3 separate regions of the Homo sapiens genome follow, and all the other regions are linked to region 1. Evidence: fine-mapped expression QTL. A gene starts in region 1. Each other region holds a variant in brackets. All regions are shown on one strand. Distances are between the middles of the regions. Region 1 holds the start of ACBD5 (acyl-CoA binding domain containing 5). Region 2 has its middle 27 kb from the start of LINC02673. Region 3 overlaps YME1L1 (YME1 like 1 ATPase).

Region 1 (4,245 bases):
ACATGCAGTGGGCATGCCCTGCAGAGCGCATTTTTCTCATTCCACAGAGCATCGATCTTAAGACAGATCATCCTGAACTGCCCTTAAAGCTGAGGGCAATCTGTCCATCCACTCACACATCACTTAAGAGACAGAAAGAAACTTCATTCTCTCTGTGTGTGTGTGCGCGTGTGTGTGTGTGTGTGTGTGAAGTCATTTCCTTTTCCTCTCTCCCCCGCCAAGGCACCTGCTCAGCACACTTTCCTTTTCGCTTTTTCCTCCTGGGCAGTGCTCATCCTCCCTGCCTGATTCAGATTCTTCCCTGGTGCTGCTGTCCAATATTTATTGCTCAGCTAAGTATCAAAAAAGAGGAAATACAAAAATCTTGAAGGCTACTACATGCTAGGTAATTTCACATACTTTATTGGAGAAAACGAAATTTTTCAGAGCTTGTTTCCTGACGCAGTCACACAGTGAACTAGCGGCAAATCCAAGATAGACTTTGGGCCAAGATAACCCTAAACCCGTTCATTTTCCTCAATCCCACCAGAAATCACCCTAAAGAGGTTTATTTATTTAAAAAAAAAATTGAAACATCTATAGGTCACATTGATTATTTCCCATTAAAAATGAAAAGGGTTCTATTAAATCCAATAAGGGGGAAATGAATATTCCTTCAATTTAGGTTTGTTCCTTTTATGGAATAAAGTAATAACGCGTTAGATAAGTGTCACTGCTTTTTAGCCATTCATACATTACCATTTGGAATTCTTTAGTATTTACAACCCAAAGTTGGTTCTCTAATCTATTTCTCATCTTTGTGTGATAATTTTACAAAATGTCCTCTTCATTTTTGAAGACAAAGAAACGTGAAACGTCCACGATCAAATGATTTCCCCCTGTGTTGTATTAGACAAACCCGAAGCAAAGCCTCCGGAGGGCGCTGGAGAAGCCGCAGCTGCAGACACCGCGACAATCTCAAGACACTTAAGCTGGAAGCGAATGTGGCATTTCAAAGAGGCACGAAATGCAACCGGCTAGGAAGGAGGGATTCCGCCGCACGGCTGCGGCGTCCGCGGGACAGAGACGCCTAACCGGAAGAGCTAGCAGGAACGCCGGACGCCGCTGGGACGTGTCCGGAAGCGCGGCGGAACGGCGGACTACATTTCCCATAAGCCCGCGGGGCAGGGCGAGGGGCGGGCGTCGGGGACATTACCGGACAGGCCTTGTCCGGCAATACCAAGGTAAATGCCGGCGCCGCGGCTCAGAGGGAAGAGTAACTTACGATCTGCGCCTAGATTTTTCCTAGTAACCCTCCTAACCCATCCCCCTAACTGACAAAAACGACTCTTCCATCCGGGAGACTTTGGGATTTCCGGGCTACAGGACTCCACCCCCCACAACCTAGTCAGTCCCACCACCAACGTTCGGCCTGGGGCACTTCCCAAATGCCTAAGGACGCAGGGGGTTGCGCTAGTAAGTTGAAGGCCCAGGGCACCCCCTTTCTAGGGTTGACGACCCGTAAAGACTCCTCATTGGCCCCGCCCTCTACGCCCAGTATCCTATTTTTATTTTTTTTTTTAATTATTGGTTTCTTAAATAGAGCCAGGGTATCGCCATGTTGCCAGGCTCGTCTTGAACTCCTGGCCTCAAGCAATCCTCCCCACTCGACCTCTCAAAGTATCGAGATTACAGGCGTGAGCCACTGTGCCCGGCCGTCCCCATGCCCAGTCTCCTATTAAATCCCGCTGGAGGTGCCTGGCTCCCTGGGGCTGGGTGGAAAGGGTAGTGTAGGGGAAGTTGCCCTCCGTCCCAGCCCAGTTTAGGAGCCGGCGACCTCCTCTCTCCTTCGGCTGCTCCTCGGACGTTCTTGGCTCAGGGCAGCGAAAACTGTCGAAGACCTGCGGGCCAGGGACTGCTGAGCACCTCCATCCAAGGTCCCCAATGCTTTTCTCCATCTACCCTTTAGAGTGGGTGTCACGATTGCCACTGGAAAGGCTAAGTGACTTGCCCTAGGTCACATAATTTAAATGGCAGAACTGGAGTTTCTCACAGAACCTGTCCCGACTTAAAGCCCTTTGCTTAGGCCCCATTTAACTTCCTCAAACCTTAACTTAGGAGAGTGCAGGCGCTGGGGACCGCAGAGTCATTTTTGTTGCCCAGCGGTGCCGTCGCGTGCAGCTTTGGGCCCAGGTGCAGAACCCAACCGCGCATCCCCAGCGCGCACTTCGTCCACCCGGCTGCCAGAGCGGACACATCGGTCCGGCCTCGGTTTCCCCCTTCTGAACAAAAGCGCGCACAGTGTGCTCCCCGCACCAAGCCGGGACTGTGGCCCCCTTTCCCCGCTTCCCGGACCCTCCTCTGGGGACAGACGGACCGCGCGCGTCCTTGCCGCGGCGGCGGGTCGGGTGGGTGGGGTTTGCTGCACTGCTGCTGCGGCGGCGGCGGCGCCAGTGGGTCCTCCGGTGACTCTGGGGCGGGGCTGTGGGGAGGGCACGGACTGACAGACGGACTCCGGCGGAATGGGGGGTGTGGCTGCTCCGCCAGGGTCCCCAGGGTGGGAGAGCGGCTCCGCGGCCACCGATGCCCGGACCCCCTCTGTCTTCTGCTAGACATGCTCTTCCTCTCGGTGAGTTGTTTTGCTGTCGTCGCGGGCCGGATTCGTGGCCTTAGTCACGCCCCGGGGGAGGAGGAAGGAGCCGGGCCGCTTCGATCTGTGTGGCCTGGATAGGGCAGGGCAAAGGGGAACTGACCCGCTTCGCTCCCGGGCCTCCTCCTTTTGGGGCATGTTGATCCGCGGCTGCGCTCCATGTTCCAGTTTCATGCAGGCTCTTGGGAAAGCTGGTGCTGCTGCTGCCTGATTCCCGCCGACAGACCTTGGGACCGGGGCCAACACTGGCAGCTGGAGATGGCGGACACGAGATCCGTGCACGAGACTAGGTTTGAGGCGGCCGTGAAGGTGATCCAGAGTTTGCCGAAGAATGGTACGTGCGCTGGGCCCCGGCTGTAGACGCCTCCTGCAGAGAGCCCCAAAGCCCCCTTTCACTTTCTGGTTCTAGTGTTGTTTATTTAGCCTTTTTTTCTGTGTAGGAGCCATGTAGTGGAAGGGGAGCTATTGAATATGAATTAATTACCTTTTGATCTTCCAAACCGGAGAAAAATCTAATATCCAGATTTTAAGTACTTCATATTGTTGAAAACAAAAGTCTTGTCACTTAATGACTGCGGATTTGGGTGTGTTAAAAAATAAATCCGGGCCGGGCGCGGTGGCTCAAGCCTGTAATCCCAACACTTTGGGAGGCCGAGGTGGATGGATCACCTGAGGTCAGGAGTTCAAGACCAGCCTGACCAATATGGTGAAACCCCGTCTCTACTAAAAAATACGAAAATTAGCCAGGCTTCGTGGCGTGCGCCTGTAGTCCCAGCTACTCGGGAGGCTGAGACAGGGAAATTGCTTGAACCCGGGAGGCAGAGGTTGCAGTGACCCGATATCGTGCCACTGCACTCCAGCCTGGGCGACAGAGCCAGACTCCATCTCAAACAAACAAACAAACAAACAAACAAAAATCTAGGCTGGGGATGCCTAATGCCACACACTCATAGGGTCTACCAGCTTAAGCGTTTTGAAAACTTTTGATATGAAGGGACAGAAAAGAAAGAATAACTATAGTCAATTGTGAAGTAATTTCTATTTTAATAAATATATATTTTCTACCTTTTTATTTGCTATTCCATTGTATAATGTTCTTTTTTATACTCATATTGGACCTTCTTTGCAGCTGGTGAGAAAAAAGTCATTCCAGTGGCTGATCTCCTTCTTGTATTTAATGTGCTATTTCTCTGGCTGCTTTTTAGATTTCTTTTCTATCTTCGGTTTTCAGCAATTTGACTAGTAGATGTGGTTTTTCTTCATATTAACCCTGTTCACGATTTGCAGAGCTTTTTGAATTTGTAATTTTATGTCATAGACCAATGTGAAGTTTTTGGCCATTAAATATTTTTCTCTGTTCTAAATGCAGAGTCTTAGAAGCAAGACGTACTTTTCAATTCATATCTTTCTACATTATATGAATTATATTTCACAATAAACATATTTATTTCTTTAGAGATGGAGTTCCGCTCTTGTTGCCCAGGCTGAAGTGCAATGGTACAATCTCAGCTCACCTCAACCCCCACCTCCCAGGTTCAAGCGATTCTTCTGCCTCAGCTTACCCAGCAGCTGGGATTACACCCGTGCGTCACCATGCCCGGCTAATTTTGTATTTT
Region 2 (4,245 bases), 76 kb before region 1:
TGTTGTTGTTGTTTCCATTGCTGTGCCCTTAGCACTTAGAACAGTGTCTGGCACACAATGAGCACCTAAGTACTCAATAAATATTTAATAAATATTTGTTGAATGCATGAACTCTGCAGGGAAAAACAGGTACAAACCTGATAGAGACAAGGGTGGGAGCAAGATGGCTTAATGAATATCATTTTATATCACTTTGATTTTGAACTATATAACTGTATTACCAATATATTTTTAAATTAAGGAAACCATAGATGGAATGTAAAATTTTTATCTTTATTGAAACAATATTTTTGCTACCGGGGTTAATAAAATCACTATATACCTTGACTTCCATCTGGAATCTTGTTGTACTGAAAACAGGGTCAATTTTAGATTGGAGGAGTTGGGGGAGAGGAAGGGTAGGAAGAGAAATATATTTTGTCTTCCAGCAAATACATTAGAGACACAGAAATGTTTAAAATGTTGTCCCTGGCTTCCAGGAGCTCAATGACTAGTAGTTGGATCAATCAGTATTTAACGTTCAATATAATACTAATGTACTCAGAATATTATTCTTGCTTATTCATATATATACATATGATATTTCAATTTAAGCAATTATAAACATTGCAAATTTTTCTATTTATTCTTTATTGCTGCATTAAAAAAAAAGCAACCATGTTCCTTTTTCTCTTCAGTCGAAATTCAGAATAAGAGACCACGCAGTAGATAGACAGAGATTAAAATATCAGCTTACTACGGATAAAAGCTAGCCTGGAGAATATGGCTCAGGCGGTAGATAAAGAGGCATGATGATATGTTACATGCAAATGAATATCAATCAACTGTTGGAGCAAAATAAAAACTGTACTAACAGTTATGCAAAGATTCAGAGAATATATCACCTATCCATCCTGTTTGGGCAAAACACTTAAGAAAATAATCAAGACAGGGACTTGAAGATGGAACCATGAAAAAAGGGTGGTGGTGAGCAGAGAAATGGGGGAGTGTCAAAGGCAAAGACACTTTAAACAGAACAGATACACTTCAAGGGAAAAACTAATAATCTGAAGTTCAAAATATTAAACTATCTCAGCAAAATCTAGCAGCTACGTAACTAGATGCAAAACATAAAAACATTCTAAAGGTCTCATCTATTGGGATGAAGGGGAAAGCAATGGACAAATAGAATCTTAGTGAGGAAAAAATCGAAAAACTTGTTTTCCCATGAAAGTGGCAAATAAAGAAGATAACTATGAATGGAATTGTAGAATTGTTTTTCAGTCAAGTTTCCAAATCAACAGCAGTGTGGGGTATCGGGGAAAAGAGTGGATTTCAAATCAGAAAAAGATAAGAAAGTCTAGGGGAGGCCAACAGTAAAATAAAGATGAAGCACAATGTAAGACAGAAGGAATAAATCACATATATCAATTGTTATAATAAATGTGATCAGTCTGCGTACTTCTATTAGGACGGAAACTATCACATTAATCAGAATATGTTTATACCATGTTTGTTTTTATAAGAAGAACACTTTAAAACAAATAAAGATAGGTAGATAAAGGTAAAAAAAAGGTGAGAACAAAGCAAACTCAACAAAAAGAAAGCACGAATGGCAATATTAATGTCAGGTGAATTGAAATCAATAGTTATAAGTATAAATCAGAATAAATAGAATCATTGTTAAGATAAAAGCTATTTTTTGAAGAAAATATAAGTAAAAAATCTGTATGTAC[A/CA]ATAATACACAGTAAAATGTGTACATTTTAAACAATTAAAAAAAAAACTTGGATAAAAATATAATTAAAGTAGGAGCTTTTAATACACATCTCTTAAGAACCTAACTTATCTCTGTAATCCCAGCATTTTGGGAGGCCAAGGCAGGCAGATCACCTGAGGTCAGGGGTTTGAGACCAGCCTGGCCCACATGGTGAAACCCCGTCTTACCAAAAGTACAAAAAAATTAGCTGGGCATGGTGGCAGGTGCCTGTAATCCCAGCTACTCGGGAGGCTGAGGCAGGAGAATAGCTTGAACCTGGGAGGCGGAGACTGCAGTGAGTAGAGATTGCACCACTGCACTCCAGGCTGGGTGACAGAGCGAGACTCCGTCTCAAAAAAAAAAAAAAAAAAAAAAAATTGTTTTACTTATTTATACAAAAGTATTATATAAAATTTTAGGGACCATAATTAAAAACATATTTTTTCAGATAATATTTTCTGAGATTATAAACTACCTATAACTAATTCTGAATTATAAACTAAAAAATTGAATCAAAGCTATATATATATATGTACACACACACATATGTATATATGTAAACACATCCTATTTCCACATTGCTTTTTTAATTGCTATTGTATGATCAACATTTCCATAACCTTATGGTAGCACCACCAAGAGTAGTTTACTATCAGAAGTCTTACCTGGATTGCTATTTTGAGGATTTTTAGATATCTTTTGTTTATATTCCAAAAGACATTGATGAATGCTATGTATAAAAATGTAATAAATAAAATTACTATTTTAACATTTACCAAATTTTCCAAATTTATTAAGTTCTTAGACTATTTCAGACAATATCAGAGCTAACAGCAGAACATTACTTATTCCAGAGACTTTAAGTTTGTAAGCTCTAGGAACTTATTAAGCTGCTAATAAAAGAAGAAAGAAAGTAAGATGAAATACTCATGAATTGAGGTCAGCATAATTCCGTAAATTAACTAGAGTTAGCTTGGCATAATGGAAAATGTCCTTAATTCAGAATAAGTCCTAGTGTGGTAACCAACAGGTATTTTTTCTTGAACAAGTTGCTTGTTAGGCTCAACGTCTTCTAAAAATGAGAATTTTAGAGCCTGATTTCACTAGCTTATTATAAAGATTCAACATGATAATGTTTTTAAAATGCTCGAATAAATAGTGAAGCAATGAAATACCTTGTTGTTCAACCTTATTGCTGAAACTATTTTAAAATTCCCAATAAAATCCAATGTTTTGGCCTGGTGCAGTGGCTCATGCCTGTGATGCAAGCACTTTAGGATGCTGAGACAGGATGACAACTTGAGCCCAGAAATTCAAGACCAGCCTGGGCAACATAGGGATACCCTGTCTCTACAAAACATAAATAAATTTCAAAAAAAAGTTTCTTCGTAGGTTATAATGTTCAAAAGTTGCACTTTTCTGTTATTAACTCCTACTTTTGGTTATTAGATGTTCTATTCTTTGTGGCTTGTAATTCAAGGCATCTAAGCTATTTTATAATTTGTAATGAAATTTATTTATAAATATATGAATTCATTAAATTGGATAACCTGATTAGCCTCTATTACTGAGCTCATCAATCACACCAAGGGCAGAAAACTAATAGATGTCAGCATCTGGCTTGGACTATTACTACTCTTTATCTACCTCCTGAAACTCTGAATCAACAAATCTTTGTTAGAATGATGCTTAGTCACTATGCTCATTTCCAGCTGCTGTGGAAGAAAAAACGCTACCTTTATTTTTTGTAAGTTCCACAAGGAAGATGCAAGTTGGTATTTCCTCATTTCTGAGATGCACTAACAGCATATTGCACACAAGATCCTATGTGTTACCACATCTCATTTCATATATCACCTTGCATCAATATTTCTTGTATGAAAATCACAACTGCAATACTGGGTGACAACCATTTTGCTTTGACTCACACCATTTCCTTGGAGCTAGTTAGAAAGTAGTCACATGCCCTTTTGGAAACTGCAAGAAATATACAACACTTCACAGATCTGTGTGTCATCCTCGTGCAGGGGCCATGCTGATCTTCTCAAAGTTGTTTCAATTTTACTATATGTACTGCTGATGCCAGCATGAATCCCTACTTTTATACCTGAAGACTGATCAGTGATGGATGAGGCTTAGCTCTGTTAAATCTAACCAACTTACCTGGGGTTTTGTGAAGTCTATTGAATGGCTTCATGGTGATGCAGAATTTGAAAATATTTTAAAAACTTGAGGTAGAGATGCAGGTAGCATGGGAGATTTTTACTTTTAGGAAAAAAAGAATCACTTGAGGGGACAAGCACAAGTTGGAACCCACTGTAACTTGAGAAAGATGACATGGGATCTTCCAGAATAAGATGAGACCTTCCACTACCTACAAAATGGTGCTATACAGATTATAAAGGTCCAGGGATATAGATGTGGTAACAAAATAAAAAGGATCTCTAATTTCTTCCTGTAATTATTTCAACCTGACTTACAGTTTCCAACTATCACAACTAATATTTGCT
Region 3 (4,245 bases), 89 kb after region 1:
CAATGCGAATCCCAGGATTGAGGAGTGGATCAGGGGACGACGCTGAGAGTGGGCCGGAGACTTCAGTGCTGACGATGAAGCTGTTGAGGGCAGAGGCGGGATGTGAGCTCAGTGATAGAGAGAGACCCTGGCTTATCGAACTGATTGCGTGGAATTTCTGCTAGAGAATCCGTCCGGCATTGTTCAGTGTCCGGCGTTCTGGGGTGGGAAAATGTCTGTACCATACATTAAAGGGAGCAGGTAATGTTCCCTTTTTTCCGACTTTCCAGTGGCTTTAGTGTTCACAGCCCCTATCCCCTGCTCTTTATTTCCTTTTAAATGGAATTTAAATTTAACCCAAACATGGTATAATATTTCGGATGGCCAGCCATGCAAGTTTTTTTCTCATTTTGACCAGAAGTAACTAAAATGTGTATTTCCGAGTCGTAAACTGTTTGCAGTTAAAATTTTGATTCAGCCTCATCCTCATCGTTTTGTAAAACAAAAGGTAGTGAAGAGAAAAATGATTTCAAGGGTTTTCATTACGCTCTTGGGCAATCACTTGTGACAATGTTTTATTCTTGCTTCATTCCAGTCTCTTTTTTTGATGGTAACATTTTAATAGATTTTTTGAGAGTTCCTACAGTTTTGCAAAGAAATAGTTTTTAAAACATTGAGTTTTTTTAAAACATAATTTTTAAGAAAATCGACACTCTTAGGTTCTTGATTTAAGCATATGATTGTGTTCCTTTGTGTAACTTTTACTCCCCCTCATTTTAAGAATTTTTAATTTTTTGTGCTAGTACTGGCTAACAAACTGAAGCAGCTGCTTGTTATTGGGCATCAGTTATGTACCAGGTGAGCAAAGCAAATGTGGAATCTTCTCTTAATATTGATATGAAGTAAATATGAGTAGGACTTAGCAAGGTGAAGAGTGAACAGGTATCACAGGCATACAGAAAAATACCTGGAGGTCCTGAGTTAGGAAAGGGTTTAGCAGGTTGAAGGAACAAAAATAAGGCTAGTGTGGCTAGAACATAGTAGTTAAAGGGGGTAGTGACAGAAGAGGTTGGAGAAAAGACTTGAGGCAGATCATACAGGGAGTAAAGGATATATTATGGCTGATTTCATTTTAAGTGTATTGGGAACCATTGAAAGTTTTAAAACATGATTAGATTTTCATTTTTAAGAGATGACTGGCTTTTGCTATATGGAGAATAGGAGAGGGCAAGAGTGGAAGATGTTATCAGCTAAAAATACCCACCCACCCCCCAATTAAAGCTGTTGCAGTGGTTATGGAAAGAAGAGAATGAGATATATTTTGAAGAAAGTGGAATTGCATGAGAGATCAGAGAGATGATGGGGAGAGGTGTTTCTGGGTTTGATCAGATGAATGCATTGAAGGTGCTATTTACCAAGATGACAGTGTCTGGAGAAGTCCTAGTAATTGTTTGAAAAAGAAGTCTGACATGGCCTATTGAATATGGTATTGAAGTTTTTGAAACTCAACTCTTTGCCTTAGTTCACATCAAGAGGCCTGATTTTAGGAGAATTTACCATCAACTGAATGGACAGTTAGTAGTATGTGATGTTGGTAGAGATGATAAAGGGATTTTTATGTACCCTAGGCAGTCTTAACAGGGCTCAAATATAGTGAGGACTCTCAGGCATTTCTTGCTTTGAAGGATGGTAACACATTTGGAATTCCTTGTTGCTTAATTGGTTGAATACACTTGAAATTAAATGGTAAAAAGGAAGACACAGAAAATGAACTTTTTCATTGAGAAGAGCTCAACTCTAAATCCTTTTGTGAAAGAAAAGAGATATAACTAATTCAAATAAAAGAGATATAACTAATTCAAATAAATCTTTTCAAAGAGGTAGAAAATATGTATCTTGAAATGATTTGATTATTTTTAAAGTTTCAAAAGAAGTTACTGTTTATTTTTTTTTCTTTTTACTGCCCCCAGGCTGTAAGGAACTTACTGTTTCTTTCTGACTCTAAAAATGATACATTGCTTCACTTGACTAGCCTTAAAACAAATCCATGTTTTTTTGCTAAAAATGCTGAAAGTATAAATAAGATCGCCCATAATCTCATTACTCAGGGATACGTATCTTAGACT[A/G]AATTCTTTCACACATTTTTTTCTATAAACAAACACGGGTATGCATACTTTTTTTTATTTTAATTTTTTTTTTTTTTTAAGATGGAGTCTCGCTCTGTCGCCCAGGCTGGAGTGCAGTGGCGCGATCTCCGCTCACTGCAAGCTCCGCCTCCCAGGTTCACGCCATTCTCCTGCCTCAGCCTCCCAAGTAGCTGGGACCACAGGCGCCCGCCACCACGCCCGGCTAATTTTTTGTATTTTTAGTAGAGATGGGGTTTCACCGTGTTAGCCAGGATGGTCTCCATCCCCTGACCTTGTGATCCGTCCGCCTCGGCCTCCCAGAGTGCTGGGATTACAGGCGTGAGCCACCGCGCCCCCACGGGTATGCATACTTAAGGTAGTTTTACGGTCAGCTTTATTCCTTAGTATGTCACGAATTTATTTGTGTATCAATATCCATGGGATGAGAAGTCTGGAATTTTGAGTCAGATTCTAAATCTTTGTTGTCTTCATCTATTAAATGGTCTGTACCCACAATAATGGCGTTAGTCCATTGATGAGGGCAGAGCCCTCCTGAACTAAATGCCTCTTAAAGGTCCCACCTCTTAACAGGATTACAGTGGCAACTAAGTTTGCCATTGTTCTCAACTCAAACTTGAGTTTTGAAGGAGATAAACACTGGAATTTTTACTGGAAGTGGGCCCTGATCCAGACCCCAAGAGAGGGTTGTTGGATCTCGCACAAGAATTCGAGAGAGTCGCCAGGCGCGGGGACTCACGCATGTAATCCCAGCACTTTGGGAGGCAGAGGCGAGCGGATCACGAGGTCAGGAGATCAAGATCCTGGCTAACATGGTGAAACTCCATCTCTACTAAAAATACAAAAAAATAGCTGGGTGTGGTGGCCTGCGCCTGTAGTCCCAGCTACTCGGGAGGCTGAGGCAGGAGAATCACTCGAACCCAGGAGGCGGTGGTTGCAGTGAGCCGAGATTGCATCACTGCACTCCAGTCTGGGCGACAAAGCGAGATTCCATCTCAAAAAAAAAAAAAAAAAAAAAAAGGCGAGAGAGTCTATAAAGTGAAAGCAAGTTTATTAAGAAGGTAAAGGAGTAAAGAATGGGGTACTCCATAGGCAGAGGAGCTGCTTGGGCTTGTCCACGAAGGATACCTACAGTTAGTTATTTCTTGATTTTATGCTAAACAATGTGTGATTATTCATAAGTTTTCAGGGAAAGGGGGACCCCTAAGGTTCCTCCCCTTTTTAGACCACATAGGGTAACTTCTTGATGTTGCCATGGCATTTTTAAACTGTCATGGTCTGGTGGGAGTGTCTTTTAGCATGCTAATGCATTATAATTAGCACATAATGAGCAGTGAGGACTAGCAGAAGTCACTCTCCTCTCCATCTTAGTTTTGGTGGGATTTGGCTGGCTTCCTTACTACAACCTGTTTTATCATCACGGTCTTTATGACCTGTATCTTGTGCCCACACCCTATCTCATCCTGTAACTTAGAATGCCTAACCTCCTGGGAATGCAACCCAGTAGGTCTCAGCCTCATTTACCCTCATTTTGCCCCTACTCCAGATGGAGTCACTCTGGTTCAAAAGTCTCTGACAGAACTGTAACAAGAAGTATAATTGTTACTCATTATTATAGCTGTTTGAGGATTAAATGGGATGATAGAAGTAAAGCCTGTAGTACTAAACCTGGTATATAATAAGAACCCATTTAATGTATTCATTTACTCAACAAATATTTATTAAGTAAATTTTTTTTTTTCTTGAGACAGGGTCTTGCCATGTCATTCAGGCTGGAGTGTGGTGGCATGATAGCTCACTGCAGCTTCAACTTCCTGGGCTCAAGTGTTTTTTTTGTTTTCATTTTTATTTATTTATTTATTTTGAGATGGAGTTTTGCTCTTGTCACCCAGGCTGGAATGCAATGGCATGATCTTGGCTCACTGCAACCTCCGCCTCCCAGGTTCGAGTGATTCTCCTGCCTCTGCCTCCCAAGTATCTGGGATTACAGGCGCCCAACACCATTCCTGGCCAATTTTTTTGTATTTTTAGTGGCGATGGGATTTCACCACGTTGGCCAGGCTGGTCTCGAACTCCTGACCTCAGGTATCTACCTGCCTTGGCCTCCCAAAGTGCTGGGATT

The links. PIP is the estimated chance that this variant, and not a neighbour inherited with it, causes the effect.
Region 2: its variant is fine-mapped to the expression of ACBD5 in esophagus mucosa (GTEx, PIP 0.99).
Region 3: its variant is fine-mapped to the expression of ACBD5 in whole blood (TOPMed, PIP 0.98).

Annotation. Positions count from the first base shown.
Region 1 is chr10:27,239,037-27,243,281 of GRCh38, reverse strand. ACBD5 (acyl-CoA binding domain containing 5) reads left to right here and starts at 2,485. Exons shown (of 13, transcript NM_145698.5): 1 at 2,485-2,608; 2 at 2,798-2,963. The coding sequence starts at 2,594. RefSeq lists enhancers at 1-8, 774-883, 1,014-1,263, 2,714-2,973, 2,931-3,433 and a silencer at 2,484-2,593.
Region 2 is chr10:27,314,699-27,318,943 of GRCh38, reverse strand. It overlaps the pseudogene ODAD2P1 and the pseudogene RNU6-666P. Among named protein-coding and RNA genes, the nearest start is that of LINC02673, 27 kb to the left of the region's middle. The variant A/CA (reference allele first, on the strand shown) is at 1,716.
Region 3 is chr10:27,149,819-27,154,063 of GRCh38, reverse strand. All of the region lies in intron 1 of YME1L1 (YME1 like 1 ATPase), which reads left to right. Among named protein-coding and RNA genes, the nearest start is that of YME1L1, 2.4 kb to the left of the region's middle. The variant A/G (reference allele first, on the strand shown) is at 2,106.